Linked DNA regions of Homo sapiens: all the other regions are reported to be linked to region 1. Evidence: microRNA targets listed by miRTarBase, many of them from high-throughput screens and not tested one by one. Region 1 holds a microRNA gene; each other region holds the end of a gene's coding sequence.
What was found. The annotated mature microRNA hsa-miR-6764-5p reads UCCCAGGGUCUGGUCAGAGUUG and lies in region 1 at 3,174-3,195, shown strand. An mRNA with a match to its seed (bases 2 to 7 or 8) in the 3' UTR can be bound and repressed. Matches are read on the target gene's strand: a 7mer-m8 pairs with bases 2 to 8, a 7mer-A1 pairs with bases 2 to 7 and ends in A, and an 8mer does both.

Region 2: the mRNA of GPBP1 is a reported target of hsa-miR-6764-5p. The part of its 3' UTR that is shown has no 7-base or 8-base seed match.
Region 3: the mRNA of GJB1 is a reported target of hsa-miR-6764-5p. Seed matches in the 3' UTR shown: 7mer-m8 at 5,693-5,699.
Region 4: the mRNA of FAM216A is a reported target of hsa-miR-6764-5p. The part of its 3' UTR that is shown has no 7-base or 8-base seed match.
Region 5: miRTarBase lists BTN2A2 as a target of hsa-miR-6764-5p. Seed matches in the 3' UTR shown: 7mer-A1 at 1,694-1,700, 7mer-A1 at 1,761-1,767 and 7mer-m8 at 2,755-2,761.

What each region holds. Positions count from the first base shown.
Region 1 is chr14:100,274,189-100,279,188 of GRCh38, forward strand. It overlaps MIR6764 (microRNA 6764), which reads left to right and starts at 3,169; the gene lies at 3,169-3,229. It overlaps YY1 (YY1 transcription factor), which reads left to right. Exons shown (of 5, transcript NM_003403.5): 3 at 510-570; 4 at 2,302-2,460; 5 at 3,230-5,000. The coding sequence ends at 3,412. It also overlaps a transcript of SLC25A29 not described here. RefSeq lists an enhancer at 4,145-5,000.
Region 2 is chr5:57,261,331-57,267,638 of GRCh38, reverse strand. GPBP1 (GC-rich promoter binding protein 1) reads right to left here. Exons shown (of 12, transcript NM_022913.4): 12 at 2,966-5,045. The coding sequence ends at 4,887. Among named protein-coding and RNA genes, the nearest start is that of GPBP1, 90 kb to the right of the region's middle.
Region 3 is chrX:71,223,992-71,230,299 of GRCh38, reverse strand. It overlaps GJB1 (gap junction protein beta 1), which reads right to left. Exons shown (of 2, transcript NM_000166.6): 2 at 4,784-6,308. The coding sequence ends at 5,741. Among named protein-coding and RNA genes, the nearest start is that of GJB1, 3.9 kb to the right of the region's middle.
Region 4 is chr12:110,487,892-110,494,199 of GRCh38, reverse strand. It overlaps FAM216A (family with sequence similarity 216 member A), which reads right to left. Exons shown (of 7, transcript NM_013300.3): 6 at 6,257-6,308; 7 at 3,815-4,181. The coding sequence ends at 4,063. VPS29 (VPS29 retromer complex component) reads left to right here. Exons shown (of 4, transcript NM_016226.5): 3 at 969-1,204; 4 at 2,078-3,117. The coding sequence ends at 2,195. LOC124903016 (a long non-coding RNA gene) reads left to right here and starts at 4,907. Exons shown (of 3, transcript XR_007063459.1): 1 at 4,907-5,291.
Region 5 is chr6:26,391,812-26,398,023 of GRCh38, forward strand. BTN2A2 (butyrophilin subfamily 2 member A2) reads left to right here. Exons shown (of 8, transcript NM_006995.5): 8 at 564-3,063. The coding sequence ends at 1,156. Among named protein-coding and RNA genes, the nearest start is that of BTN3A1, 7.4 kb to the right of the region's middle.

The sequences.
Region 1 (5,000 bases):
CATTCGTGTCAGTACTAATTGGACCCATTTCGTGTATAGAGATGGATATTTTAGGACACTCCTGTGTTCACCGCTTCTTTTTCATAAGGCACCTTCATCATCGCAGCAGCTGCCTTTGGAAATCTTCCCTTGCCTCTCACAAGGAGATTCATCTGATTGTCTGAGTTGATTTTTTGTGTTTTTTTAAAGGGTTTGGAGTTAAGAACAGGTATGTGAATCACACAGATCATAGTGCCATTCTAAGCTGCACCAGCTTATTAGCTATGAGACTGTAGGCGGCAACTCGATGTTTCTAGCCTGAGCATCCTTATCTGTAAGATGGGAAGAGTGCTTCACAGTCATTGGTACTTAGTGAATGCAAGTTGTCTCATCCTTTCTGCTTCATGGAAATGTATCATAATTTTAGTTTGGGTACCTATAAGGAAAGCATTTTAGGGACTATATGATTTATGCCAGTTGAGTCTACCCACTCCTACAAATCTGTCTGTCTCTCTTTTTCTTTTGATAAGAATGAAGCCAAGAAAAATTAAAGAAGATGATGCTCCAAGAACAATAGCTTGCCCTCATAAAGTAAGTAATGCTAGAGGGAGAGTGTTCATTAAACTGTTGATGAAGTTTTAGAGAGTTATAAGAAATTTGCACTTTTGTTTCTGCTTGTGATAATTTAAATGAAGCAAGGAATTAGAATCTTCGGTTTCTAAATCCAAGAGATGAAGTTTTGTTATTTAGTAAAGGCAACTTTTTAAATACTGTTAAATGGGATGACTGCAGGGAGCCGTTGCTTGATTACTGTGTGTTGACTCTACTGTTAGCGTTTCATTTCTTTTTGGATTATATTAACAAGTCCGTCTTAAGATCCTGGGTTGTGTCTCACCTATTGACCTTTATGGGAATGTAGGCTTGTAACTGAAATTTGAAAATTATTTTGGATGTTGCTAAAATAAGCCAAATAAAGACTTAATAATTGTGTGTGATTAGAGAGGCACTTAATTGTTTTCAAATGTAGTTAGTCTTTAAAATAAAAGGATAACCTGAAAAGTACTTTTGAGATATTTGTTGGGGGCTATTTTCAAACTTAATTGGATATGAGACTAACAGAAAAATCAAGTATCACATAGGTACAGAGAACAAAGTAGGAGAGATTGAGTGGAATAAAGAATGTTAAAAATGAACAATCGGAGCAGGCTACATTTAGTTTCACGGTCTCTTCCCTGTAATGACTGTGCACTAGCAAGTCCTTCCTGTTCTTTGTCAGCGTTCTTGATGTGGCGATTTGAAATGTAAACGTATCTCCATTAGGGCCGAAATAACAAGCATTTGAAAACAGTTAGGCTGGAAGTGCCTATGCCATCCCTTTAGCTTCTCTGAAGTTTTCTTTATAATGGACACATAATACTTGTACATATTTATGGGGTACCGTGTGATGTTTCAATGCATGTATACATTGTGTACCAGTTAAATTTTTTAAATTTCCATTTTCTAAATGGAAATTCAACCTAGGGGTAAAGGCGGAAAAACTGGGGCTTCCCTCTCCCTTCTGCCTGTGAGCTGTCTAGTGACTTGTGCTGTCCTTCTGTCATGCTGTCTTATCATTTCCCCATTCACTCCATTACTGGGCAACAACTGCAGAAGAAATTGTTGAGGACATGCTTCTCGAGCGCCACACATCCATCTGCCTTTCCCGCCCTGCACTGGTATCAATTTGCCTGCTTCTTCCTTTTCCTAGTGTCTCACAAAATAAATTTCTTCTGTAGTTGCCATTCCTTGGAGACCCTCTTGCTTCTTTCTCTGTCAAGAAGGGGAAAGAGGCAAAGAGAGAAGAGGGAACAGTAGGCGATGGAGAATGACAGTCCATTGTTGCAGCACAGAATATGGGGCCACCAAAGGTAGTGGTGGACTACCGTCATTTTAACTCCATTTGCTTAGCAGTGCTTCTGTTACTTCATTTTGGGGGACATAGTCGGGTGAGGTGGCTGTGGTAGAGCTGGAAGCCAGGGTGTTGGGTTCTATTCCCAGTTTGGCTACTACTAGTAGTGTGACCTTGGGCAAGTCTACTTAAAGACATCTCTAAGCCTCAGTTTCCTCATCTGTAAAACTAGGGTTTGCATTGAATGATGACTTTTTCAGCTGTCTGCTTTTTGTCTTAAATGATATTAATGTTCTACCGTAATACTAAGTAAAATTAAAATGGGGGGTTGGGGAGGTGGTTTTGTTTTAATATGTCAGTAAAGGCTGTTAAATGGTTGAATCCTTTCTAACAGTTTGCAATGTGAACTTCTAAGCTGCTTTCTCTGTTTTAAGGGCTGCACAAAGATGTTCAGGGATAACTCGGCCATGAGAAAACATCTGCACACCCACGGTCCCAGAGTCCACGTCTGTGCAGAATGTGGCAAAGCTTTTGTTGAGAGTTCAAAACTAAAACGACACCAACTGGTTCATACTGGAGAGAAGCCCTTTCAGGTAGAGCCAGTTCCCTCTCTTCCCCACACTGCCTTGCCTGTCTGAACACTGCAAGTGTAGGTGGTGTGGTGATGAGGCAGGAGGCGCCAGCCCAGAGACTCAGGGTCTTATTACTCCTTGGTGAGAAACAAAACTTCTCCTGGGGAGTCGCTTAGAAGGGTTGCCGGGGCTCTGGACATCCTTGTCTATACTCTGTGGTACTGGGTACGCAATGTATTGGTGTTGATGGAGTACACTTTATGGCAGGAGGAGAACAGGATTGAAGAGCATACCTAAAACTCAATTTCTACTTCATTCATTACAGGATTGAAGTAATTTATTTTTGGTAGTTAATAGTATAATTACTAACTGATAAAGTTTCTAGAGTGTAAGTATAGGTAATACTTTAGCCCATAAATAAGTGAAAGAACTAGCAGTGCAGCTAGTAAATCTAACGTGGTTCTTTTTTGACAACTGACACCAGAACCCTTAATCATTTGTATTTTACTGTTGGAAATGTTTACAGCAGCACTAGGACTCTAGCCTGCATTTAGGAAGACTTGCCATTTTGCCAAGTGTTTTAAACAGTTCGTGAGGGCTCTCCTTGGGTTTTCGGGGTTGTCCAACCTGCCTGCTGATTCTAGACTATATCCACAAAGTTCACCCAGGGCAGGAATGAAAAGTGTTTGGTAAAATAAATAGGCTGTTCTCTAGCAAAGCAGTGAGCTCCTGACTCCCAGGGTCTGGTCAGAGTTGCTGAGTGGGTTGATCTCTGGTCTTTCCTTGACAGTGCACGTTCGAAGGCTGTGGGAAACGCTTTTCACTGGACTTCAATTTGCGCACACATGTGCGAATCCATACCGGAGACAGGCCCTATGTGTGCCCCTTCGATGGTTGTAATAAGAAGTTTGCTCAGTCAACTAACCTGAAATCTCACATCTTAACACATGCTAAGGCCAAAAACAACCAGTGAAAAGAAGAGAGAAGACCCTTCTCGACCACGGGAAGCATCTTCCAGAAGTGTGATTGGGAATAAATATGCCTCTCCTTTGTATATTATTTCTAGGAAGAATTTTAAAAATGAATCCTACACACCTAAGGGACATGTTTTGATAAAGTAGTAAAAATTAAAAAAAAAAAACTTTACTAAGATGACATTGCTAAGATGCTCTATCTTGCTCTGTAATCTCGTTTCAAAAACACAGTGTTTTTGTAAAGTGTGGTCCCAACAGGAGGACAATTCATGAACTTCGCATCAAAAGACAATTCTTTATACAACAGTGCTAAAAATGGGACTTCTTTTCACATTCTTATAAATATGAAGCTCACCTGTTGCTTACAATTTTTTTAATTTTGTATTTTCCAAGTGTGCATATTGTACACTTTTTTGGGGATATGCTTAGTAATGCTACGTGTGATTTTTCTGGAGGTTGATAACTTTGCTTGCAGTAGATTTTCTTTAAAAGAATGGGCAGTTACATGCATACTTCAAAAGTATTTTCCTGTAAAAAAAAAAAAGTTATATAGGTTTTGTTTGCTATCTTAATTTTGGTTGTATTCTTTGATGTTAACACATTTTGTATAATTGTATCGTATAGCTGTATTGAATCATGTAGTATCAAATATTAGATGTGATTTAATAGTGTTAATCAATTTAAACCCATTTTAGTCACTTTTTTTTTCCAAAAAAATACTGCCAGATGCTGATGTTCAGTGTAATTTCTTTGCCTGTTCAGTTACAGAAAGTGGTGCTCAGTTGTAGAATGTATTGTACCTTTTAACACCTGATGTGTACATCCCATGTAACAGAAAGGGCAACAATAAAATAGCAATCCTAAAGCAAGAATATGGCAGAACAAGATCTGTAAGCACAGTCTTATTTTCTTTTGTTGTCCAGAATACTTATAATTCTTGAGCCTCCCAGAAATTGGAAGCTAAATAAAGCAACTCAAGTTTCCTTTATTTTGCACTCAATTACAGTGATTATTGATGAAAGCGATGCATGGATATTTTAATACTTCCTACATGTCCTGACTTCTGAAAGAGAGTAGGTAACAGGCATCCCGAGTTCAGGAACTACCTCAGAACACCCCAGGCCAGGTTGGTCATAGGCTGTGATTTTAGCCCCCGGCAAGTGTGAGTGAAGCATCTGTACCACCGCGCAGGCTGAGCGCCTGCGCAGGGTAAGGTGCCACCTGGCAGTGGGGCACACAGAGGGAAGACCAGGCCTGTCCATCAGCCGGCTGCCTTCAGAGGCAGCTCCAGCAGGACCTTGGCTTGTCTGACAGGAAATGCTTGTGGTCGTTGGTTATTTGGTTTGAGAGCCCTTGTTCCTCCATCTAGTGGAGTCCTTATTAAATGCTAGCAATGTGGCAATTGAGTGCCAGTAGCTTAATTTCATGTTTCTAAATGGACACTGGGTGCAAATCGGCAAGGTGATTAGATTATTAGAAAATTCTGCTCAATGAGTACCTCTCACATTGTAACCTCTTAAATGTACGATTATAATGTTGGATCTTAGGTCAAATAACAGACTTGAGAATACTTTATAAACTGCCATG
Region 2 (6,308 bases), not on the chromosome of region 1:
CAACCTGGCCAACATGGCAAAACCCTGTCTCTACTAAAAGTACAAAACTTAGCTGGGCATGGTGGTCACTCCTATAATCCCAACTACTTGAAAGGCTGAAGCATGAGAATTGCTTGAACCTACAAAGCAGAAGTTGCATTGAGGAGACATCATGCCACTGCACTCTAGCCTGGGTGACAGAGCAAAACTCTGTCTTCAAAAAATAAAAAATAAAAAAAGGCACAAATAAAAAGGGGGAAAAAAAATGTAGTTTCAAACCCAGGTGTGACTACTTCCACCATACTGTATGTTAATACATTATAACTGGTTGCTGGACGCGGTGTCTCATGCCTGTAAATCCCAGCACTATGGGAGGCATAGGCAGGAGGATCACTTGAGGTCAGGAGTTCGAGACCAACCTGTCCAACGTGGCGAAATTCCATCTCTAAAAATATGAAATTTAGCCGGGCATGGTGGTGCGCACCTGTAACCCCAGCTACTTGGGAGGCTGAGACATGAGAATCACTCAAACCCAGGAGACAGAGGTTGCACTGAGCCAAGATCACGCCACTTACACTCCAACCTGGGTGACAGAGTAAGGCTCTGTCTCAAAAAATAAAAAAAAAGAATGGGTTTTGGGGGCAGGATTTTTAAATATTCTAAAGCCCAGGCCACGCCCCAGTCTAATTAAACCACAATCTGGGGTGTTGGTGGGGGATGGTGGACACATTGGGGAAGCTCCCCAATGATACCAATGGTGTAGATAAGTTTGGGCCCCACCACTACACATGCTCTTACATATTGCAAGTTAGGACACTGCTGCATGGAACATGCTTCAGCAGTGTCCTTCAACCAGACCTAATGATATAATACATTGTACCTTCAATCACTATGCCAGAGTAGTTCTACAAAACGAATCCATATGGGTAGGCAGAATGAACTTAAAGTTAACTGTACAACTGAACAAAAATTCACAATTACAAAACCTCTTAATTACAACACATTCTCAAGTCCTAAACTACGAATGTTTCAGGTCCACGTGTCCCATAACTATATATATATAGTTTTATATATATATAGTCTTATATATAGTTTTACATAGTTTTATAGTTTTTATATAGTTATATATGTAGTTATATAGTTATATATATATAGTTATACAGTTATATATATCAAGAGTCTCGCTGTCACCCAGGCTGGAGTGCAGTGGTACAATCATGGCTTATGGCCTCCGCCTCCCAGGTTCAAGCAATTCTCCTGTCTCAGCCTCCCAAGTAGCTGGGATCAGAGGCATGCACCACCACACCCAGCTAATTTTTGTATTTTTAGTACAGACTGGGTCAGATGGGGTTTCACCATGTTGGCCAGGGTGGTCTTGAACTCCTGACCTCAGGTGATCCTCCCGCCTCAGCCTCCCAAAGTGCTGGGATTACAGGCGTGAGCCACCATGCCCAGCCCCATAGTTAAATATTAAAACAATCACAGCTGTCCTCTGAGTCCCATCGTTTTAAGTGCAAGCATTCAGCCCTGCCTAAAGAAAGGAAATATTAAGTAGCAAAACAAAAACCAGAATCTGAAGCATCTCTGCGGCATCTGGAGGCTTTCACGGATTTTTCTATTGCTTGATATGTCCTGTCGTTCCCCTAACAGCCAAATAACTTTTATAACCTCAGGAAACTTAACTATCTAAAAGTTAAAATATCCAACTCTTAGTGATAATCATTTAAAAGCCCTAGTAACACATCCCTTATTGTGTAAGCCAAAATAAAAATCTCACTTTATAGAAATATTTCACAAGTGTGTATCCTTTCTACCCTAGTTATCATTTTTTTTTTATTTTGAGACGTAGTCTCACTCTGTTGCCCAGGCTGGAGCACAATGGCACGATCTCAACTCACTGCAACCTCCGACTCCTGGGTTCAAGCGATTCTCCTGCCTCAATATCCTATGAGTAGCTGGAATTACAGGTGTATGCCCCCACGCCCGGCTAATTTTTGTATTTTTTTTTTTTTAAGTAGAGACAGGGTTTCACCACGTTGGCCCAGGCTGGTCTCTAACTCCTGACCTCAGGTGATCTGCTGACCTTGGCCTCCCAAAGTCCTGGGATTACAGGTATGAGCTACCGCACCCAGTCTACCCTCATCATCTAGATTCAACTTAGTTTGCATGATTATGGAGCATGTATTTAGACTCCAGTATCAGATTAGGGATGATGACGGATGGGGTGTTAAAACAAGTTATTTAACAGATTCCTAAATTTAAAAGGTTTATATAACCACATTCTAACAGTATACATAAACACTAGCAAAAAAGGACAAAGTATTTTGGGGGAACCAGATCCTTTAACATACTGAATTCTGTTAATATAAATCTGATTAAGTCAAGCTGATTTTAGATTAACAATTTCAATAGAAATTATCTGCAGAAATATTCTAATCCTTATACTAAAATCAAGCAAATAGTTTTTGAAATGCTATTTTAAGTCATTACCTTAAGAATTTTGCTCATTAATTACATTTTATACCAAAATAAAATGAGAGGGGGGTGGAGAATTAGTGACAGGGACTTAAAAGGAACCAAGAAATTCGGGGGAATAATAGATTATGTTCACTTAGTTGTAGGTCAAAACACTGTAAACTGTATGTTTTACCTGTGTGTTCAAGTCAATTTATACCTCAATAAAGTGTTAAAAATAAAAAAGCTGCCAAAAAAATGAGTTTGAAACAGCCATATTTGCTTTTCAGACTTCCATGGCCTAGTTCTGAGTTCAGCAATTCCACATTAGATCTATAACTAGTTTCTGTGCTTGTAGGCTCTCTTTAAAACAATATGGTCCAAGCTGTTTTATCAGCTGCCCATTATTTAGACACCAAGCTAAAACTATGTTACACTTTTAACTGTTCTCTTAAATTACATGTATGGCTCCAACCCCTCATAACCAAGCTTATTAATGTCATTAACTTAATGCATAGAATAACCATACCACTGTACTTTACCATATTTATAAGGAGTAAATTACTAAACACATTCCATATCACAATGCATGAAAGCACAATAAACATGAGTTAACTGCTGGTAAATGGGAATTAAGGCAGAAAAAACTGAGTATAAGAAAGATGCCAAAAACCAAAACTACAGAATCTTTTCTGAAAGTAGAAAACACAGTAAGGTGGATCTCAAATGTAAACCACATTCCTCAGGTTCCTTCTAGCTTGTTTTTGGAAATACAGGTTGTATCTGATAAATTTCATTAATCTATTAAGCAAATAGTACAATCTAAGAGTCTCAAAGACATTCAATATGTGTTACCGATAGCTTCGTCAAAGCATGCTTTACATTCTCCTGTGGCTAATTCTAACTACATTTAACTTTAGCTGATTAGATTGAATTGTGACAAATTATATAGTGAAACCTTATTTTAAGTATAAGGTCTATTTAATATTTTATTACCATTCTAACTCTTCCTCAAGTTTTGTGGGAGTGTGCTAGTGTGTTGTTTTTAATTTCCCCATCACCATCAGTCTCAGTGGGAACAACAACAAAAAAAAATAACAGTTTCTGGTGAAAACTGGGGAGTCCAGGTAGGGTATTTATGCAGAAATAGCAAAAACACTGCAGCCATCTGAGAAAACACTTTTTAAAAAACAACAAACACTTAAGATTAGATCTGACATAAAACCTCAAGTATTTTTGCTCTAAGATTATGCTCTTTACATAAGTTAGAATATATTTAAACATAAGGGGGAGCTAAAAGCAAATGGGGGTAAACAAACCAGAAAAATCAAAATACAAATATACACAGAGCCAAAATAGTATTTCCGTCAGCAGCAAAACAGAAACAATTCCAAAATTAATGTGCAAATGAAAATAAAGTAGTTAACAGTCATTCATTTAATAAGCTTGTGTATTTGATAATGAAAACGCTTAGCTTTCCTTTTCTGACCTCGGAAAAGTAATCACCATCTTTAGTAAGGTATTACTTTTAAAAGTATGACTTTAACAAGTGAATAAAGCATGTTTAGAGTATGTTTATGTTTAGAAACAATACCTTGAACACTACAGAAAACAACAATATTCTGAAAATCCAGTTTATTTTCCATGTCGTGGACAGATCCAGTCAGTGTGATCAGTTTTTCTGCGTGTGTAATAATTTATCAAAATAAGTTTTCTCACAAGACTCTTTTCCATCAACTCTGAAAACCCTGGTCTGACAACATACCCCAATAAAGCTTTTGAAAATCACCTCTTAAAATTTGGAAGAAAATGTGCCAAGTCTTTTCCTGTAACATTTACTGCACTACAAATGGCTAAAGAGCAATTTATGGTTTAAAAGGTGAATAGTACAACAGGTGAGTTCAGGAAATTGTTTTAGTGCACTTTGCTCCAGTTTTAGCCAACATGCTACATTTTCCTTTTTGGTTTTTGTTTTGTTGTTGTTGTTTTTTGGGGGAAGGAGAGGGAGACCGCACAAAGTGGACTTGAGGATTTCCATTGTACGAAAAAGATATGACTCTGCAAGCAAAACAGTGTAAGCTGCCTTTTTTCTTAAGACCTGGACATTTTAAGACAGAAGCTTTGCAAAACATTACACAATTTTTTATTATTAAATGAGAAAATCTCATTTGTTACATCGTCACATTGCTAGTCAGAGAAATGTTGCAGTGATGAAGAAAGTCAATGTTGGACCAACCCAAGTCCTCATTCCTACAACATTCATTTACAAAGAAATAATGTTCAACACAGCCCAACAAAACATTCTTGGTTTTCTTCATATTGAAGTCCCCCAAAAAATCCTCTTCTAATGGGGTATTTCACTACATAAATTATAGTTCTTCATTTTTACAATTCACCCCAAACTGTATGAGAGATGTATCACACTAAGATTTCTAAAGCTGTTAGGAAATCCTTCACACATCGTCGTCATCTGATGTATCACTGCTACTTGTCTCTGTGTCATCATTCTCAGTTGTGGGTTTGAAAGTGCTGTTCTTCCACGGTCCAAACTTGAAGTCACAGATCAAGCCATTTTTCAAAATACCATTTTTTCTCAGACCATTCTTCTGTAACTAAAATGTTAACAGCAAAATAAATAAATTATCCCTCAAGAGTTACAAACCTACTGTAATAATATAAGCATGAATATAATAAAATTGTATCCTAACCCAAAAACTACACAAGTAATGATATTTCTGAAAAAATTCTGGATCCAGACAAAGTAGATGTGAGTAATAATTGTCACACTGATTAAGGTACTAAACTTTCCCACATTTTTATTGCCTCAAGTGACAACTGTAATAAATACCTTCAGGGACTTACCAGAATATAATCAGAAACCATTAAGCTGTATCTGTTATTTTTATTATTCTGACCTAAATTAATACACCCCCCAATCTGCTTTGTTCATAGTTTGTAAAGTAGAATGAGGTATATAAAGTTACAAAATTGTCTCGTTTAACCGGAGATGAAGATACTAGAAAAAATACAGTTCTCTATTTCTGAAAATGAGAAATCATAACTAAAAGGTTGGTAATAAATAAGAATTGAGTCAAAACATCATCAAAGAAGAAAAAAGATAGTTGGCCCAAATTAGAAACAATTTAAAGACAGAAAATAAGCCCAGTGTAGTGGCACAAGCCAGTAGCCCCAGCTGCTCAGGAAGCTGAGGCAAGAGTATTGCTTGAGCCCAGAAATTTGGGGATGCAGTGAGCTATGACCAGCCACTGCACTCCAGCCTAGATGACAGAGTGAGACCCCAACTCTTTAAATAAACAAATAATCGATTTGAAAAAAAGCATCTCAACTTCCTGATGCTCTAACAAAAATTCCCTAATACTCTTTCAGAAAGGTAACTAGGGAGACATTAAGCAAGATGTTTTAGAATATGAAATACTCTTGTGCAAGAAAAGGATAAAAGATGAAGTTACTTAGGAAGCTACTAACACTCTCTACTTCTTATCACTCTTGCTCCTCCCCCAGAAAAGCCAAAAACAAAAACAAAAAACAAAACAAAAAAGGTCTGGAAAATGACTAATCCATAGACATCACTTACACTAATTCCTAACTATTGCACACCCAATAGTTTAAATAAGTCACTATTGCAGACTTCTATAAAGTCAATTCAACCAGGTGCAGTGGTTCCTGCCTGTAGTCCCAGTTACTCCAGAGGCTAAGGTTGGAGGATCACCTGGCACCCAGGAGTTCTAGAGGCCAGCTGGACACCATAGCAAAAGCCTGTCCTCCCTCTTTTTTTTTTTAAAAGCAATTCTGACCTATCGTGATAAATTCCTAAATCTCCCCCACTCCATGCTTACATATAATTATATTGTTCT
Region 3 (6,308 bases), not on the chromosome of region 1:
GCCTGATTTTTGTATTTTTAATAGAGACAGGGTTTTGCCATATTGACCAGGCTGGTCTTGAACTCCTGGCCTCAACAGATCCGCCTGCTTCAGCCTCCCAAAGTGCTGGGATTACAGGCGTGAGCCACTGTGCCTGGCCTGTGTGCTTTTCTTTTTTGTGTGTGTGTGGTGGTGGTGGTGGTGGTGGTATTTTTTAGAGATGGGGTCTCACTGTGTAGTCCAGGCTGGTCTCCAAGCAATCCTCCCACCTCATCTTCTTGAGCAGCTAGGATTACAAGTGTGAGTCACCGCACCTGGCACCATATAATGTGATAAGCGCTCTTATCACATACACCACAGTCATATTGTGGGAATTCAGAGTGGAGGTCTGAATTGGAGAGTCTCTCCAAGGGACTTGATCAGCGGGGAAAGAAGAGTTGATGGCTTCACAGAGGAAACGACGTTTGAGATGAGTTTTGAATGATTAGGAGCTTTCCAGTCAAAGGAGGGAAAGGAAACCTCAAATTACCTTTGGCTCTTCCACACCCCACAACTCAGACATGAAGTCCTGTTGTAGGTTCTACATCCAAAATGTCTCTCACACCTGTCTCCTCTTCATATTCCTCTGCCACTGTCCTAGTCCTACAGGCGCCACTTGGGCTATTGCAACAGCTCCATAACTGGTCTTTTTTTTTAGAGACAGGGTCTCACTATGTTGACCAGACTGGTCTCAAAGTCTTGGGTTCAAGGAATCCTTCCACCTCAGCCTCCCAAGTAGGTGGGACCACAGGTGTGCCACTGCACCTGGCAGTACCTGGTCAATCTGTCTCAGTCTTCAATCCCCAATCCAGTCTCCATGCAGCTGCTGGCTGACCTTCCAAACACACAAGTTTGAAGGTATCACCCCCGTCATACCTTTTTTTTTTTTTTGAGACAGAGTCGCTCTGTCACCCAGGCTGGAGTGCAGTGGCATGATCTCGGCTCATTGCAACCTCTGCCTCCCAGGTTCAAGCGATTCTTATGCCTCAGCCTCCCAAGTAGCTGAGATTACAGGCGTGCGCCACCACACGGGGCTAATTTTTGTATTTTTGGTAGAGACGGGGTTTCACCATGTTGGCCAGGCTGGTCTCAAACTCCTGACCTCAAGTGATCCACCTGCCTCGGCCTCCCAAAGTGCTGGGATTACAGGCGTGAGCCACCGTGCCTGGCTTTTTTTTTTTTTTTTTTTTTTTTTTGTGATGGAGTCTCACTCACTCTGTCACTCAGGCTGGAGTGCAGTGGCGCGATCTCGGCTCACTGCAACCTCCACCTCCCGGATTCAAGCAATTCTCCCACCTCAGCCTCCTGAGTAGCTGGGACTATGGGCATGTGCCACCACGCCTGGCTAATTTTTGTATTTTTAGTAGAGACAGTGTTTCACCATGTTGGCCAGGATGGTCTCGAACTCCTGGCTTCAAGTGATCTGCCTGCTTTGGCTTCCCAAATTGCTGGGATTACAGGCAACAGCCACTGTGCCCAGCCAATTCCTGTCATATCTGTAGGGTATTTTTTGTCTGTTTTATTTGCCCCTTGCTGGAATGTCCCAATCCATTTTCCATTTGACCCTGTACATTCTCCCTGGCCTACTCCAGGAATCAACAGGAGCTTAGCTTGGTACGATTGTGTAGCCCCTTCTGCACCATAGGCCAGGTCTGGCATTTAAGTACTTTGGAATCAGTAAATGGAGCAAGCATTCCCCTCTAGCCCCCACTGTGTGCACCCAGGCTATCTGATTGAACATCTGAACCAGTTTGTGGTTGCCATGCCAATTCTCTATGGATACCACAGCTTGCTTTCAAACCCCAACTCAGCTGGCTGGAGGCCTTGATTACTCTCCTAGTTCATCTGCCTCTGTTCCTTTGCCCCCCAGCTCCTGGCATCTCTGTGCATAGACACCTCTAAAAGATCATAGACATTCCTAAAAGGACCAGTTCCATGAGATACAGCATGCAAGAGCTTCCTGTTACTATGCCTTTTCTGCCCCCTGATCAGACCCCTTGAATATTGACCCTTAAATGAATCATGCTCAGGTTTGCAACCTCTCTTGGACTTTGCTGTTTGGACTGGTGTCCACTCCCTGGGGGAGCCAACACTATTATTGCCAAATTGTTTTAACTAGCTTCAGCCTACCTGAACCAGCCTCACTCCTTTCTGGCTCATTGAGAATTCTAGCATGTCGTAAGGCCATGGTCTCAGTGCTTATGATACTATCTTACCTTACTTTACCGTTAGTTCATAACCAGCTTTTGAACACATCTTGTCTGATTCTCAAAAAAGTTCTGTGAAAGAGGTAGAGAGGTTATTATTAACTCTCTATTGGAGATGAGGAAACAGACCTGGAGAGGGTAAATATCACGTGTCCAAGGGGACAGAGCTCATCAGTGGAGAACGAGGTCTCCTAATTCCAGTGTCCTCTTCATAACCCAGGTCACTCAGCACATTGAATTTCTACTGCGTGGCAGAGAGCATGCCTCATTTGCCTCTGTGTCTCTCTCTTATACTCTTGTGACAGAGCCTGATTTGAAAAGTCAGTCTTGGAGTCAGTCTAACTCTGCCTCCTACCTCCCTGAGACATTGTGTCCACCAGCTCCCCTCAAGGTTCCTTGGGCCTGTTCCTACCTGGTTCATGGGACCCAAGAATCCTGTGTCCCCCACTTGGGCTGTAACACCCAGCCTGATAGCTTTATTGTCCCACCACTGCCCCCTGGAGAGGAAAGCCTTGATATAGAGTTGGAGCCTCTTTCCAAGGGGGATTGGTAGAATCTTTGAAGAGAAACTACATTTCTGATGTGATGGTGGGGGTTAGCATTTCTCAATGTGGAGAGGGCATGAGGTTCCCTGCTTCCGACCAGGACCAGGATGGAATTTTAAAAAGAAAATCTTTCTCCTGATGGCATGTTGTATGGAGAGGGGATGTGTTTGTTGTATTGTTGTGGGTGAAAAGGATGGATTTCGATAAGAAAAGGAATCTCTCTCACCGTGAGGGGGTGGGGACCTCTCCTCTGATGGAACATAATGTCAGTTTCTAAGGGGAAAGGAAATTTCTTGTAGGAAAGGAATGTTCCTCTTTTAAGGGAGAGGAAGCTCTCTCTCAGGGATTACTAAGTGTGGTGGAAAGGAATACTTACTCTCTCCTTTCTTTCTTTCAATTTTTTAAAAATAGAGATGGGAGGCCGGGCGCGGTTGCTCACACCTGTAATCCCAGCTCTTTGGGAGGCCGAGGCGGGCAGATCACGAGGTCAGGAGATTGAGACCATCCTGGCTAACACAGTGAAACCCCGTCTCTACTAAAAATACAAAAAAAAATTAGCCGGGCGTGGTGGCGGGCGCCTATTGTCCCAGCTACTCGGGAGGCTGAGGCAGGAGAACAGCGTGAACCCGGGAGGTGGAGCTTGCAGTGAGCCGAGATCGCGCCACTGTACTCCAGCCTGGGTGACAGAGCGAGACTCCGTCTCAAAAAAAAAAAAAATAGAGATAGGATCTTGCTATGCTGTCCAGGCTAGTCTTGAACTCCTGGCCTCATGCAATCCTCTTGCTTCGGCCTCTAAAGGTCTCATTTCCTTCCCTCCCTCCCTCCCTCTCTCCCTCCCTCCCTTCCTTCCTTCCTTCCTTTTCTTTCTTTGTTTCTTTCTTGACAAGGTCTCACTCTCTGGCCCGGGCTGGAGTGCAGTGGCGTGATCACAGCTGACTGCAGCCTCAACCTCCTCCTGGGCTCGAGTTATCCTCCCACCTCAGCATCCGAAATAGCTTGGGACTACAGGCACATGCCACCACACCTGACTAATTGTTTTATTTTATTTTTTTTGTAGAGATGGGGTCTCTCTATGTTGCTCAGACTGGTCTCAAACTCATGGGCTCAAGTGATTCTCTCCCCTTGGCCTTCCAAAGTGCTGGGACTACAGGCATGAGCCACCACATCCAGTCTTCCTTTTTTTTTTTTCTAAAGGAGAAATCTCAAATAAAGAAAACTTCCATGCTTTCTCTCCAAAGAGGAAAAACTGTCTCAAGGGAGAACAATTCACATGAGATTGTGTCTGATTTTCTCTCCCTTTCTGATATCCAGCACTTCCTACATGGAGTCCACATACTCTGAGAGGGAGTGGCAAATAATTTCTCCTGTTCGGAGGTAAGGAAGCTGAGGAGGCAAACTTGCCATGGGGGAAACTTTTACTCTGAGAGGCTATTTGTGGGGGCAGTGACTCTAAGGAAACCCCTGTGAGGCTGGGGGAAGATAATGCACTGTTACTTGGGGAAATCTTTCAGGAATCCCAGAAGCACAGAGTGTTGAAGGGAGCTGAGAGATGTGCTGGGCCAGTTCTCGTTTGCTCATAAGGAAGCTGAGGTTCGGGGAAGGGAATGCCCCGCTACTAAGTGACAGCATCAGGACTCCAGCGCAGCTTTTCCAAGTCTCAGCCTGGGGCATTTCCTACCACAGCTGACAGGGGAGGGTGATGCTGGTGAGGAAACTGCTGCTATGAAATGTTTGACCTGTGTGGAGGCATCTCTGGAGTGGGAAGCATTGATTCCTGAGAGAAGGAAACTGGGAAAGAGGATGAAATTAGGGGCTCTGTCCAGCTGAAAGGGGTCAGGGTCATCGTGCAACCCAACAGGTGGACTGTGGGACATCAGCTTGTAGGGGATGCTGAGTTTGGAGGGAGTAAGGAGATAGGTCTCCAGATGTGCGGGGGAGGGGCTCTCACCGAGGTACCCAGGGAATTGTGCCACTCTCTGGGGCAGGAGAAATTTCCCAATCATTTCTTGTCTCTTCAGAGGGAGTTGTCATTTTTAATCTTTTCAAAATCAGAGGAAGGAGGTATGTAAACTAAATCCCAATAAAGCTGTTATTAGACAATGAAAAAGACAAGAACCACAACAACAAAAGCAACAGGGAGGAATGGCTCCGGGGCTGGCTCTGCGGCCCAGAAGTACAGTGATTTCCTCATTTGCAGCTTCAGCTACTCAAGTAACTACTTCTTTTGCCCTGTTCCTTTCTTAATCAGTAAAAAACCAAGGCCAGCTCATCCTGGGGGAGGTCAGAGGTTGCAGGAGAAAGAACTTGACAAACACACAAGCCACCTCTTCATTTACTGTAAAATCCTGTTTAATGTGTAACATTTCAGGCAGAGAGAGGCCTTGGGGACTAGAGGCAGAGGTGGCCTTGACCAACCCCTGCTCCAACTTATCTGCCTGCTTCTCTCTCCCTAACTCCCTCACCCCAGACACCTCCTCCTTTTCCTTGTGGCCAGCAAGCACTATTCCTCCTTTACTAGTGCTGGCCACCCTCCCTTCTCCACCCACATGTCCACAGCACCCCTGCCCTCTGCTCCTCTTACCCACATCCCTCCTCACTGATGTGACTCCAGAAACAGGGTATCTGACAGCACAGGGTTAAGATTAGTTTCATAATTGGAGACGCTGTCGGAGCATCCCATCTCTTGTACCCAGTGGTCCCAGAGAGAGGGAGAGGGAAGAGGGAAGGGTGCAGGCAACAAGGGCAGCCCACACTCCCAGTAACCTTGAGCACTGGCATAGGTGGCCTCTAGCTCCCCACCCCTCCAGCTCCTCAAAAGGAAGGCCCCGGGAGGAAGGGAAGTAGCCAGGGAAGGAAGGTTTTGATCGAGTAATCCCCAGCAGGCAGAGGCCTGTGCACCGGCAGGGGAGAAGGAGGGGCTCGCCCAGGGCAGGGTCGGGGGTGGGATGGGAGGTTGCCTGGTATGTGGCATCAGCAGGCCGAGCAGCGGTCGCTCTTTTCAGCCAGCCCAGCCCCGGTGCCAGGGCTGCGGCGCAGTATGTCTTTCAGGGAGCCATCCTGCTCACTCAGCAGCTTGTTGATCTCATTCTGCTTGTATTCAGGTGAGAGGCGGTGGCCGAAGCCCGAGCCCTTGCGGGAAGGTGGATTGGAGCGGCGCTGGGCTCGGCGGGCACAGGCCCGGATGATGAGGTACACCACCTCGGCCACATTGAGGATGATGCAGATGCCAGAGGCAGCTAGCATGAAGACGGTGAAGACGGTTTTCTCGGTGGGGCGGGACACGAAGCAGTCCACTGTGTTGGGGCAGGGGTAGACGTCGCACTTGACCAGCCGCACCATGGCATAGCCAGGGTAGAGCAGATAAAAGACATACATGAAGACGGCCTCAAACAACAGCCGGAACACCACGCTGATGACATAGGTCCACCACAGTGTCCCTGAGATGTGGACCTTGTGCCTCTTCACCTCCTCCAGGTGTAGGGGGTCCCCATGGCCCTCAAGCCGTAGCATTTTCTTCTCTATGTGTTGCTGGTGAGCC
Region 4 (6,308 bases), not on the chromosome of region 1:
TTTGTGTTATTTAATGGGGTTCCTTAAACCAAACTGAAGGGGCATACTGTCTTTTTATTGTATTTTAAAAAGAGTTTGGATAAATTTAAAGGTGGCATGGAGGTGAAAGACGGGGAGATGAAAGGACAAACAACCTCTTTGCCTGTTTCATCATCCATAAAGTGGGGATCATAATAGAACCTTCTAGGATTGTTTGTATTAATTAAGTTGATATTTGTAAAACCCCTACAGTAGTGCCTGGCTCATACTAAGTACTATGTAAGTGTTAGCTCTCATTATTTTAAGCTATCTATAAAAGTATTAAGGCTACATTAAGCTATAATTTGAACACACCCTAACTTACATGCCTTAGGTAAAGGAAAATCACAAGTTTGGGGGGAATAATTATTTACAGCATGCGCAAAAGAACCCATATTCTATAGGAATAAACACAATAAAGGGGTTGCATGATAAATTCCAGTTTATATTGAGTAAGTTATGTTTTAAAATATAGATGCAGCCTTGGAGACCAAGAAGAAATAAAATATTTATAAATGTGGGGTGGGCACAGTGGCTCAGGCCTGTAATCCTAGCGCTTTGGGAGGCCAAGGCAGGTGGATCATTTGAGGTTAGGAGTTTGAAACCAGCCTGGCCAACATGGTGAGACTCCGTCTCTACTAAAAATACAAAAAAATTAGGCGGGCGTGGTGGCGGGTGCCTGTAATCCCAGCTACTTGGGAGGCTGAGACAGGAGAATTGCTTGAACCTGGCAGGCGGAGGTTACAGTGAGCCAAGATGGTACCACTGCACTCCAGCCTGGGCAACATAGCAACACTCTGTCTCAAAAAAAAAAAAAAATGTATAAATGTGTGTGTTGTGGGGTACTACATCAAAACATCCATAGGAGATTGAATATTTAAGGAAACTGATTTTTTTAAACATCAGTATCTCTAAAATACATATTTTCTTACGTCTTTTTCTTATGTTAGAATCTGAATTATCCAGAACAGAAAGTTGTGACTGTTGGACAGTTCAAAATTGGTCTGATCCATGGACATCAAGTTATTCCATGGGGAGATATGGCCAGCTTAGCCCTGTTGCAGAGGCAATTTGATGTGGACATTCTTATCTCGGGACACACACACAAATTTGAAGCATTTGAGCATGAAAATAAATTCTACATTAATCCAGGTTCTGCCACTGGGGCATATAATGCCTTGGAAACGTGAGTAGTATAGAATTTGGGAATTTGGGGGCTTTAGTAAAATAATTGCATGTGTGACATTTCGTAAAAGAAATGTGGCTGGGCACAGTGGCTCATGCCTGTAATACCAGCACTTCGGGAGACCAGGGCAGGTTGCTTGAGCCCAGGAGTTTGAGACCAGCCTAGACAATATGGTGAGACCCTGTCTCTACAAAAAAATTTTAAAAATTAGCTGGGTGTGGTGGTGCATGCCTGTGATCCCAGCTACACAGGAGGCTGAGGTGGGATGATCACTTGAGCCTAGGAGGTTGAGACTGCAGTGAGCCACGTTTGAGGCTCTGTACTCCAGCCAGGGTGACAGAAGGAGACTCAATAAATAAATAAATAAATAAATAAATAAATAAATAAATAAATAAAATAAAAATAAATGTGACTTTTTTTTTTTTTGAGACAGAGTCTTGCTCTGTCACCTAGGCTGGAGTGTAGTGTTGCAATCTTGGCTCACTGCAACCTCTGTCTCCCGGGTTCAAGTGATTCTTGTGCCTCAGTCTCCCAAGTAGCCGGGATTATAGGTACCCGCCACCACGCCTGGCTAATTCTTGTATTTTTAGTAGAGATGGGGTTTCACCATGTTAGCCAGGCTGGTATTGAACTCCTGACCTCAGGTGATCCACCCACCTCAGCCTCCCAAAGTGCTGGGATTACAGGCGTAAGCCACTGTGCCCAGCCACATGTGACCATTTAAATAAATCTAGCCATTTTGGCAATCTTTTGGTAACTGTTCATGTGATATGTAACAGATTTCTCTGAATCCAAATAGTCATCTTAAATTGAAATTTATAGTGCTGCTGCTTTGTGCTACAAAACACTGACATTATTTATTTTTTCTTCTAGAAACATTATTCCATCATTTGTGTTGATGGATATCCAGGCTTCTACAGTGGTCACCTATGTGTATCAGCTAATTGGAGATGATGTGAAAGTAGAACGAATCGAATACAAAAAACCTTAAAGCCAGGCCTGTCTTGATGATTTTTGGTTTTTTTTCATTGTCCTGTTGAAATCAAGTAATTAAACATTTAAGAGCCACAAAATTGTATCACTTTTATAATATTTTGCAGTAAAATATAATACCATCTTCTCTGTTAATACATAATTGCTCCAAGCTTCCTGTAAACTATAAGAATATATTTAGTTTACAGTATATGGATTCTATGAAAAAATGTCCACAACACAGTAATTGGTCACTTGTTAAGAAAAATTTATCCTTGTAAGTATCTTCAAAGTTGATATTTGGAACTTTATTCCAAAAGTAGTGCATGTGGAGAAAGAATCTAGACTTTCTTGTATACATTTTTCTCTTCTCCAGTAATAAACAATTACCTTTCATTTATACTTTGATAACCTGTATTTAATTTAAAAAAAAACATAAAAATGAGGAACCAAGTGAAACTACGGATATAAATATTAAAGTGGACGAGATGACCTTTCAGAGCTCTTCTCTTACATTGTGTCATAATGTTGGACTCAGATTTTATTTGCTAAATAATATACCATGCCGACATTAACAGTGATTCTTCAAACTGTTGCTATTTCCATTTTTCAAGGTTTAATAAAAGTTTTAAAAATACAAGTTTAGGGGCCGGGCACAGTGGCTCACACCCTAATCCCAACACTTTGGGAGGCTGAGGCAGGTGGATCACCTGAGGTCAGGAGTTCAAGACCAGCCTGGCCAACATGGTGAAACCCTGTCTGTACTAAAAATACAAAATTAGCCAGCATGGTGCTACATGCCTGTATTCCCAGCTACTCGGGAGGCTGAGGCAGTAGAATCACTTGAATCCTGGAGTTGGAGGTTGCAGTGAGCCGAGATCACACCATTGCACTCCAGCCTGGTCAACAAGAGCATAACTCCGTCTCAAAAAAAAACAAAACAAAACAAAAAAAAAACAAATTTAGCAAGGAAGCATACTAGAGTAATATATAACGTAAAGAATCCTCTTGTTAGTGTAACTACTCCCAACCTAATCTAGTCCGAGAGTCCCAAGTTATTTATGTGGTAATTTCATAAGATAGGGAAAATGTGTATTTACATTTTAAAGTTGTATTCAAATAGCAAATATTTATTGATCACCTACTTTGCAAGTCAGAGCATCATCTCTGTCAAATGCTATTCTGTATCTGGATATTTCCAAGCTTCCCTTAGCCCAATCAAAAAAATACTTGTAGGATATTCTTTTTTTTTTGAGACGGAGTCTCGCTCTGTTGCCAGGCTGGAGTGCAGTGGTGTGATCTCGGTTCACTGCAACCTCCGCCTCCCAGGTTCAAGCAATTCTAATTCTCCTGCCTCAATCTCCCAAGTAGCTGGGACTATAGGCACACACCAACATGCCCAGCTAATTTTTGTATTTTCAGTAGAGACGGGGGTTTCACCATGTTGGTCAGGCTGGTCTCGAACTCGTGACCTCATGATCCACCCGCCTCGGCCTCCCAAAGTGCTGGGATTACAGGCATGAGCCACTGCGCCTGGCCCTTGTAGGATATTCTAATATTGCTGTTTTAGGACTTACTATGAACACAGAAAGAAGAAATACGATGCATTTGTCAGATTTAAAGAAAAGTAATTCAATATTGAATGCAAGAAAAGTTTTAATTGTATCTAGCTAGAAGTACAAGTATATGTTACATGTAAATTTTCTTACATAACTATCATTGGTACATGGAACTACATCAGACCAATTACATTGTTTTAAGTTTCTGAACAAACCAAAATTACTTAATGATTTAATAAATAACAATACCATCCTAAACATACAGGACACAACTCACAACCCCTTACCCTCACCTTTGGCACGAATTCAATACACGAGACAAGACTGTCAAGTTAACATCAGATGTTCTCCCTGTTCTTCAATTGACATTGATTGCATAAAATTATTTAGTAAATCTTCTTCCTTTTTTTCTTCACTCATGTGTGATTCAGAATCATCTGAAGAAACTGAAGGAAAAATAAGAATTTACAATTGTCTGTTTTGGAAATAAAGCTCTAAGTACAACTTTCAAAATGACCTGGCTTATTAATAAGCCTGTAGTAAAGACAAATTGCCTGCAATTTTCAAGGCTCTTAGTCACCTCATCCTTCCCCCAAGTTTCTTACTCTTTAAGATACACAATACTGTATTCTAGCCAAGTTACTGTACAGCAAATTCTCTTGTTACTAAGTCCTGTTTTACCATTGATTTTCAAAATCTTTCAGTTGGGGGAAATTAAAGTGGTCAGTTACATCTTCAGAATCTCTGCATTTTCATTTAGTTCCTTCTCATCTCTTCTATTGGGGACCACAGGGACTCCCCCCCCTACAGTTTCCGCTAACTGTACCTTTTGGAACCTGACTTACCCCTTCTCTCCTGCCCTTTCCCTCATTTCTTGGATAGGCATGGTACGATATTTACAGCAAAGCTGGCTAACACTGTCATACAGTGATGGGATATCAATTCAGAAGGCCTAACTTCCCTACTTCAGTTTTTTTTTTTTTTGGAGACTAGAGTGCAGTGGCGCGATCTTGGCTCACTGTAAGCTCCGCCTCCCAGGTTCACGCCATTCTCCTGCCTCAGCCTCCCGAGTAGCTGGGATTACAGGCATGTGCCACCACGCCCGGCTGATTTTGTATTTTTAGTAGAGACAGGGTTTCTCCATGTTGGTCAGGCTGCTCTCGAACTCCTGACCTCAGGTGATCTGCCAGCCTTGGCCTCCCAAAGTGCTGAGATTACAGGCATGAGCCACTGCGCCTGGCCAACTTCCCTACTTCTTACCCACCTCCCTACTTCACTATGCTGATAACTAGGAAACTACTTAACATGATTTAACATTATCAGTTCTGAGGAATACTTCTGATCATTCGGTCTGTCTTCCCTTTTTCATTTTGCAGTATTTTGTTCTTGTGGTAGAAGGATCCTTTATGCTGATCCTTCCAAAGTCTGGATTTGTCTGAGTTGCAGCTGTAAAATTTTGATAATATCACCTGCTTGGCTTGCCTCCACTGTTTTGTTGAATATCAAACAAAATGGTATACAGAAGTCCCTCCTTATCCACAGTCTTGCTTTCCAAGGTACAGTATAAGATATTTTGAGAGAGACCACATTCACATAACTTTTATTACAGTATATTGTTATAAAATTGTTCTATTATTTATTGTTGTTAATCTCTTTATGTGCCTAATTTATAAATTAAAACTTTATCATAGATATGTGTTTTTTAGGAAATAACAAAGTATAGGGTTCAGTAGTATCCAAGATTTCAGCCATCCACTGGGGGTCTTGGAACATATTCCCCATGGATAAGAAGGGCCTACTATAAGAGATGTAGCACTTTGTAAACTAATAGATGCTATACAAAATATGTTCATCCAAAAATAGCACTAACTCATAAAAGAAGTGCTGTTGCTTGAGAAGGTCATGTTTGTGGTTCTGGGTTCAGACGAATTCATTCTCTACTAAGTCTTTGACCTTGATATTGTAAGTATCTTTAGCATTAGAAATACCTTGAATCTTACTCTTTTGAGCAGTATGTTCTTTTTTTCTTTTCTTTTCTTTTTTTTTTTTTTTTTGAGATGGAGTCTCACTCTGTCACCCAGGCTGGAGTACAGTGGCGCAATCTCAGCTCACTCCAACCTCCGCCTCCCAGGTTCAATCGATTCTCCTGCCTCAGTCTCCCAAGTAGCTGGGATTACAGGCGCCTGCCATCACGCCCAGCTAAGTTTTGTATTTTTAATAGAGATGGGAGTTTCGCCATGTTGGCCAGGCGGGTCTCGAACTCTTGACCTCAGGTGATCTGCCTGACTCGGCCTCCCAAAGTGCTGGGATTACAGGCGTGAGCCGTGGCGCCTGGCCCAGTATGTTCTTTTAATTGCAAGCATAAACTATATTTTATGTTTGGTTTTTTATTTGTGACAATAAAAGCAAATCATATTCTAAATTTGTTAATATCTTCATAATAGAAATGAAATTGTATTTGGTATAGTATTTTTAAGCATAAGATCTTAAAAAATGAATATTGTTAAATTTCCACATTTACCTGTTTGCATGAACAGTTTCCTTGGTCTTCTAAAAATCTTCAGTGACTTACA
Region 5 (6,212 bases), not on the chromosome of region 1:
ATTCTCCTTCTTTATCCTTTGAAGTGTGCCCTTGTCAGCCACTTAAATCAGTTGTCACCTATTAAAACAACCTATAGGACCAACGAAGAGGTCCTTCACCACCTAGGACAGTGTGTAATGATAGACTCACTTAATTGATCCATTGAGAGGTATGTGGGGGAACAATAGGAGATAAAGCTTCTGTGATGGTTTAAGCCAAGTTGGAAAGTTTCTAACTAAAGAAAGTCCCAGAGATCATATATCTTGAATAGAAAAGGGATCAGATCTTAGAATGCTGAGAAAAACTGGGAACCATTAATTTTGGCTCATTTCCTAAACTCTCTGGATTTCATAGAGCCACAATTCTTCTCAACCTGGGGGCACTGCTTCTGTCTCTGGAGAGATAGAAGTGCAGCTTCCGTAATTCTCAGGGTATGAGCTGCCTGGGATCAGGGGACCTTCATGGAAACGGCCACTACATGGGGAACCCCCTTCAGCTTTCTGAGACTTCTCTGGGGACCAGGAACCACACAATCCCCAGGGTTCCTGAGACCCCAGGCATAAACCTGAGACTTCCTCTGCAGCTGATGTGGTCCTGGATCCAGACACCGCTCATCCCGAGCTCTTCCTGTCAGAGGACCGGAGAAGTGTGAGGCGGGGCCCCTACAGGCAGAGAGTGCCTGACAACCCAGAGAGATTCGACAGTCAGCCTTGTGTCCTGGGATGGGAGAGCTTCGCCTCAGGGAAACATTACTGGGAGGTGGAGGTGGAAAACGTGATGGTGTGGACTGTGGGGGTCTGCAGACACAGTGTTGAGAGGAAAGGGGAGGTCCTGCTGATTCCTCAGAATGGCTTCTGGACCCTGGAGATGTTTGGAAACCAATACCGGGCCCTGTCCTCCCCTGAGAGGATTCTCCCTTTGAAGGAGTCCCTTTGCCGGGTGGGCGTCTTCCTGGACTATGAAGCTGGAGATGTCTCCTTCTACAACATGAGGGACAGATCGCACATCTACACATGTCCCCGTTCAGCCTTTACTGTGCCTGTGAGGCCCTTCTTCAGGTTAGGGTCTGATGACAGCCCCATCTTCATCTGCCCTGCACTCACAGGAGCCAGTGGGGTCATGGTGCCTGAAGAGGGCCTGAAACTTCACAGAGTGGGGACCCACCAGAGCCTATAGAATCAATTCCTTGGACTCACAGCCATGCAGATAAGCCCTGGCCATCTCAGCAGCCACCGCACAACCCCCCTAATGAAAGACACGCCCTCCTCCCCTCTGGTCACGTAAGAGAACATCTTCCAGCTGCCTTTTTCACACCCACTCCAGCCCTCTGCCCCAGTTTTCTCCTCCTCACTAGTCTGTGGCTTTAGTAGTTCCTTTGCTTGTAATTATGGGATGGGATCCAGGCATAGGGAACTAGTTGTTTCATAGCTCCCAGTCAAAAAGAAAGTGAGAGAAGCTGTTGGGCAGCGAACCTACTGTTTAAAATCAGGATAACCACATTAAGCCCAATATGCCAGTTGGCACCAGATGCTGTGGACTTGGAATGAGGCCAACAGGGTTCACCAGGATGAGAGAGGAGAGAGGAATCCACAGGACCACCAGAAGGGAGAGGGAACCAGATATGCAGATCAGAGATAGAGGAAGTGGAACCAGAGAGCTGGGAGGGACCAAGGTTGTAAGGATGGCTAAGTCCCACCATAAGAGCTAAAGGGTCCTGGGAGATGATGGCTCATTTCCACCCAACCCCAGGATTTCCACAGCACACACCCACAGGCCTGGACCTGGGATGAAGATGAATGAAGAACATGGACTCATGTGGATGTGGTTTGGCTCAGATGTCCCTGCAATAAACAAGGGGTCAGTACTTAGTCCCTGAGTGTGGTTGAGGTTTGAGGTCCTGGTCGAGCAGGGCAGTACTGGACCAGGTCTACGTCAGCATTCAGGTTCAATGGGGACACCAGTGGCTTCAAACTTCCTGATCTAATTATGTTTTTAGACACTTAGAAGTTATTGAGGACTTTAAAGAGCTTTTGTTTATTTGGGTTAATATTTATGACATTTGACATTGAAACAAAAATTTAAAATGTTATCTTTTAATTTATGTTAAAATAGCATTAATAAATCAGTTATAGGTTAATGTAGATAGGATGTTTTGTGAAAAAGCAATCTATTGTGTCCAAATAAAAAAACAAAAAGTGTGACACTGGTTAACTTTTTCCAGATCTCATGTCTGGCTTAATAAGAGATATTTGTATTATCATATCTGCCTTTGTATTAAACCTATTGGTATATCATAGGTCATGTTAGCTCAAAAAAACTTTACTGCACACTACTGAGAGAATGAGATGAAAAACGATTAATGTTTCATTATTATTATTGTGAAAATATTATTAACACTGGGGACTCCTTAAGAGTACATCAGAGTTCTCTCTAGGAATCCCAAAACCACATTTTGAAACTAGAATAGTGGATCCTGGAAGTTAATCCATGTGCTGGTTAATTTTAGATGTCAACCTGACTGGATTAAGGAATACCTAGACAGCTGGTACAACATTATTTCTGGGTGTGTCTGTGAGTGTGTTTCCAGAAGAGATTGGCAAGTGAGTCAGTGGGAAATTCTCTCCTTCTGTTGGCTGGGTGCCCAATACAACAAAAAGGCAGAGGAAAGGCAAATTCTTCTCTCCTCTGGAGCTGAGACACTCTTCTTCTTCTGCCCTTGGACATCAGAACTCCTGGCTCTCCGGCCTTTGAACTTCAGGACTTGTACCAGGAGGCCCTGGGTTCTCAGGCCTTTGGCTTTGGACTGAGAGTTACACAATCAGCTTCCCTGGTTCTGAGGCTTTCAGACTTAAACTGAGCCATGCTACCAGCATCCCAGGGTCTCCAGCCTACAGATGAGCTGTTGTGCGATTTCTTAGCCTCCATAATCACATGAGCCAATCTCCTTAATAAATGCCTGCTCATAGATCTGTATCTACATCTATATCTGTATGTGCATCTATATCTATGCCTATATCTATATCTATATCATATTGATTTTGTCTCTCTGGAGAACCCTGACTAATAAAATGAGGCATCTAAAATTCTAGCTTGAATGGTAGTATTTTAGGTTTTAGACAATTCAGTAATCCAGTTGGACTGAAAAAATTTAAGTAATCAAAAATTTTATTACTGCAGTTACAAATAGACACAATATTGAAAGAATCAGGAGTGATTTTTTCAATACCTGATTTGTAAAGATGGAAAGCAAGGTTGTTTGTGTTAATGTGTATGTCTTAGTCTATGTGGGCAGCTATAACAAAAATATCACCAAGACTGAATGGTTTGTAAACAACAGAAATTTATTTCTTGCAATTCTGCAGGCTGGGAAATCTAAGATCAACACCCCAGCATAATGGTGTGTGGTGAGGGCCCATAGACTTGTTCACATGCCAAAGGATAAAGATAGATCTGTAGGGTCTCTTTTGGAAGGACACTAATGACATTCATTAGGGCTCCCTCAACCTCAGAGAGAAAATAGAAGGAGGAGATTCCAAACTTCCTGCTGCTGCCCTGACCTGCTCCTGCCCCTCCTCATCTATTTTCTCTGATTTAAGAAGCAGGTATCCTTTCCCCTGTGTCAGGCTAATTCTCCATCCACACCCTGGACTCTCACTCTCCAGTTTCCCTTAGGACTTCTGTGTTCAGTTCATTCATTCATTCAACAAAAATCAATGAGTACTAACTACATGCCAATCAGTGTTCTTGGTACTGGGGGCAGAGAAGTGCACAAAGTGTAAAGTCCCATTCCTTATCATTGTAGAAGACAGAAAACAAAATAAGTAGTAACAGATATGGTGTGTTGGATGATGATAACTGCTCAGGAGATAAATAAATCAGGGGAAGGAATATAGGAAATCACAATTTCTAAAAGAGTGGTAATGAGCAATGGGAGTGAGGCACAGAATACCTGGGAGAAAAGCATTCTAAGTTGAGAGAACAGCAGTGCCAGAGCACAGAGGCAGAAGCACTGTGGTTTGTGTGAAGAACAGCAATGAGGCTGGGGTGGGCAGAGCACACAGGGTGATCAGGAGATTAGGAGGTGACAAGGCCAGAGGGGGTTGAGGGCCAGATCATATATGGCCTTGAAAGTCATCATGCTGACCTGGGCTTTACCTCTCAGAGGGGAGCCACAGGAAGGTTAAAGCAGAAAAAGGACTGGACTTACTTACATTTTAAGAAGTTACTTCACATGCTAGACTGAGATGGGCTGTGGGTAGGGGTGGTGGATGGAGGCCTGAAGACCCAGCTGGGAGCTACTGCAGTGATCCAGGGGAAAGATGCAGATGACTTGTACCAGGGAGGAGCCATGAAAATGTTATGATGCTGGATTTATTTTCAAGACAGAGTAAAAAGGCTTTGCTGATAAACTTACAGGTGGGGTATGAAAAAGGAGGGCATCAAGGGTGACCACAAGGTTTTGGTCCTAAGAAATGGTACAAATGGAGTTGCCACTTACTGAGATGAGGAAACTGAGGGAGAAGCAGGTTTTGGAGGCCAGGGGAGGAGCCAGCATAGAATCCAAGGTCAGTTTTGGATACGTTCAGGTTGAGGAGCTTACTAGAGATCCCCGTGGAGATGCAGAGTAGGCAGGTCAGTAATAAATGTGTAGTCCAGGCAACGGGTCAGGGCTGGAAACACAAGTTTTTCTCTTTATCTTCTTTATCTGCATGTTTGTTGTCATGCCTGTTTCACTTTAATGCATTAGTGATCTATTGCTGCATAACAAATTACCACAAACTTAGTGGTTTAAAACAGCACACATTTATCATTTCAGTTTCTGTGGGTCAGAAGTCCAGGCAGAACTTAGTGAGCTCCTCTGCTCAGAACTTCACAGAGCAAAAGTCAAGGTGTTGGCCAGGCTGTAGCCTCATCTAGAGTCTCGACTGTGGGAGAGTCCTCTTTTCAGATCACTCAGGTTGTTAACAGAGTTCATTTCTTTACAGTTGTAGGACTGAGGGCCCCAACTCCTTGCAGGCTGAAGCTGGAGGTTGCTCTCAGCTCCTACAGGCCTCCTCAGCTCCCTGCTGTGTGGATCCCCATGATGACTACTTTCCTCTTCATAGCCAACTAGGAAGACAGAGCCTCTAGAGTGGGTCAGCTAGCAAGAGAGAGTCTTACACTACATAGTGTAGTCATGGAAGGGACATCCCATCAGTTTTACCATATTTTATTGGTTAGCAGCAAGCCACAGGTTCAGCTCACACTCAGGGAAAGTACAGGCTGCAAACTGCAAGAGGAGTAATCATAAGGGGTCCACTCCAGACTCTATCGGCTACATCATATAAGAAGCTCAATGTTCTCCCATTGTAACTGCCCTGCTTCCTCTTTCCCTGGGCAATACAAACATGCTAACCTCTCTCTAGGTCTCTACTTTCATACAAGCAAAGTCTCAGAAAGAGAACACATACATGGCCATCAGGGACTGTCTGCCATCATGATGGCCACTGCTGTACCACACCATAAACATTGTTTGTTTTTTTCTTTCTTTCTTTCTTTCTTTTTTTTTTGAGATAGACTCTTGCTCTGTTGTCCAGGCTGGAGTGCAGCAGCATGATGTCGGCTCACTGCAACTTCTGCCTCCTAGATTCAAGCAATTCCCCTGACTCAGCCTCCCAAGTAGCTGGGATTACAGGCCTGTGCCACCATGCCCAGCTAATTTTTGTACTTTTAGTAAAGCGGGGTTTCACCACGTTGGCCTGACTGGTCTCTAACTCCTGACCTTAGGTGAACTGCCCGCCTCAGCCTCCTAAAGTGCTACATTACAGGCAAGAGCCACTACTCTCAGCCCATAAGCATTGTTTCTATCAGTTACTAATGGTTTCCCAACCATTAAATCCGTTACACATTTCTATTTTCCCCTCCCACCCCCGTGCTTTCCTTTTTAGAGAGACAGGATCTTGCTCTGTCACACAGGCTAGAGTTCAGTGGTGTGATCATCGCTGACTGCTGCCTTGATCTCCTGGGCTCAAGCGATCCTCCTGCCTTAGCCTCCCACAGTGCTGGGATTATAGCTGTGAGACACTGGGCCTCGCTTGTCATTATACACTTCTGTCCTTCCTTTATGGACAACACTGAGTTCTTCATAGACCTGCCTGAGTAGGTGTTCCTGCCTATGTGGCGTCTGCCTCATCAATCCCCAGGGCCCTCTTCTTGGCCTTTCCCTGCTCCTAGGGAGATCTTTCTCAGAATT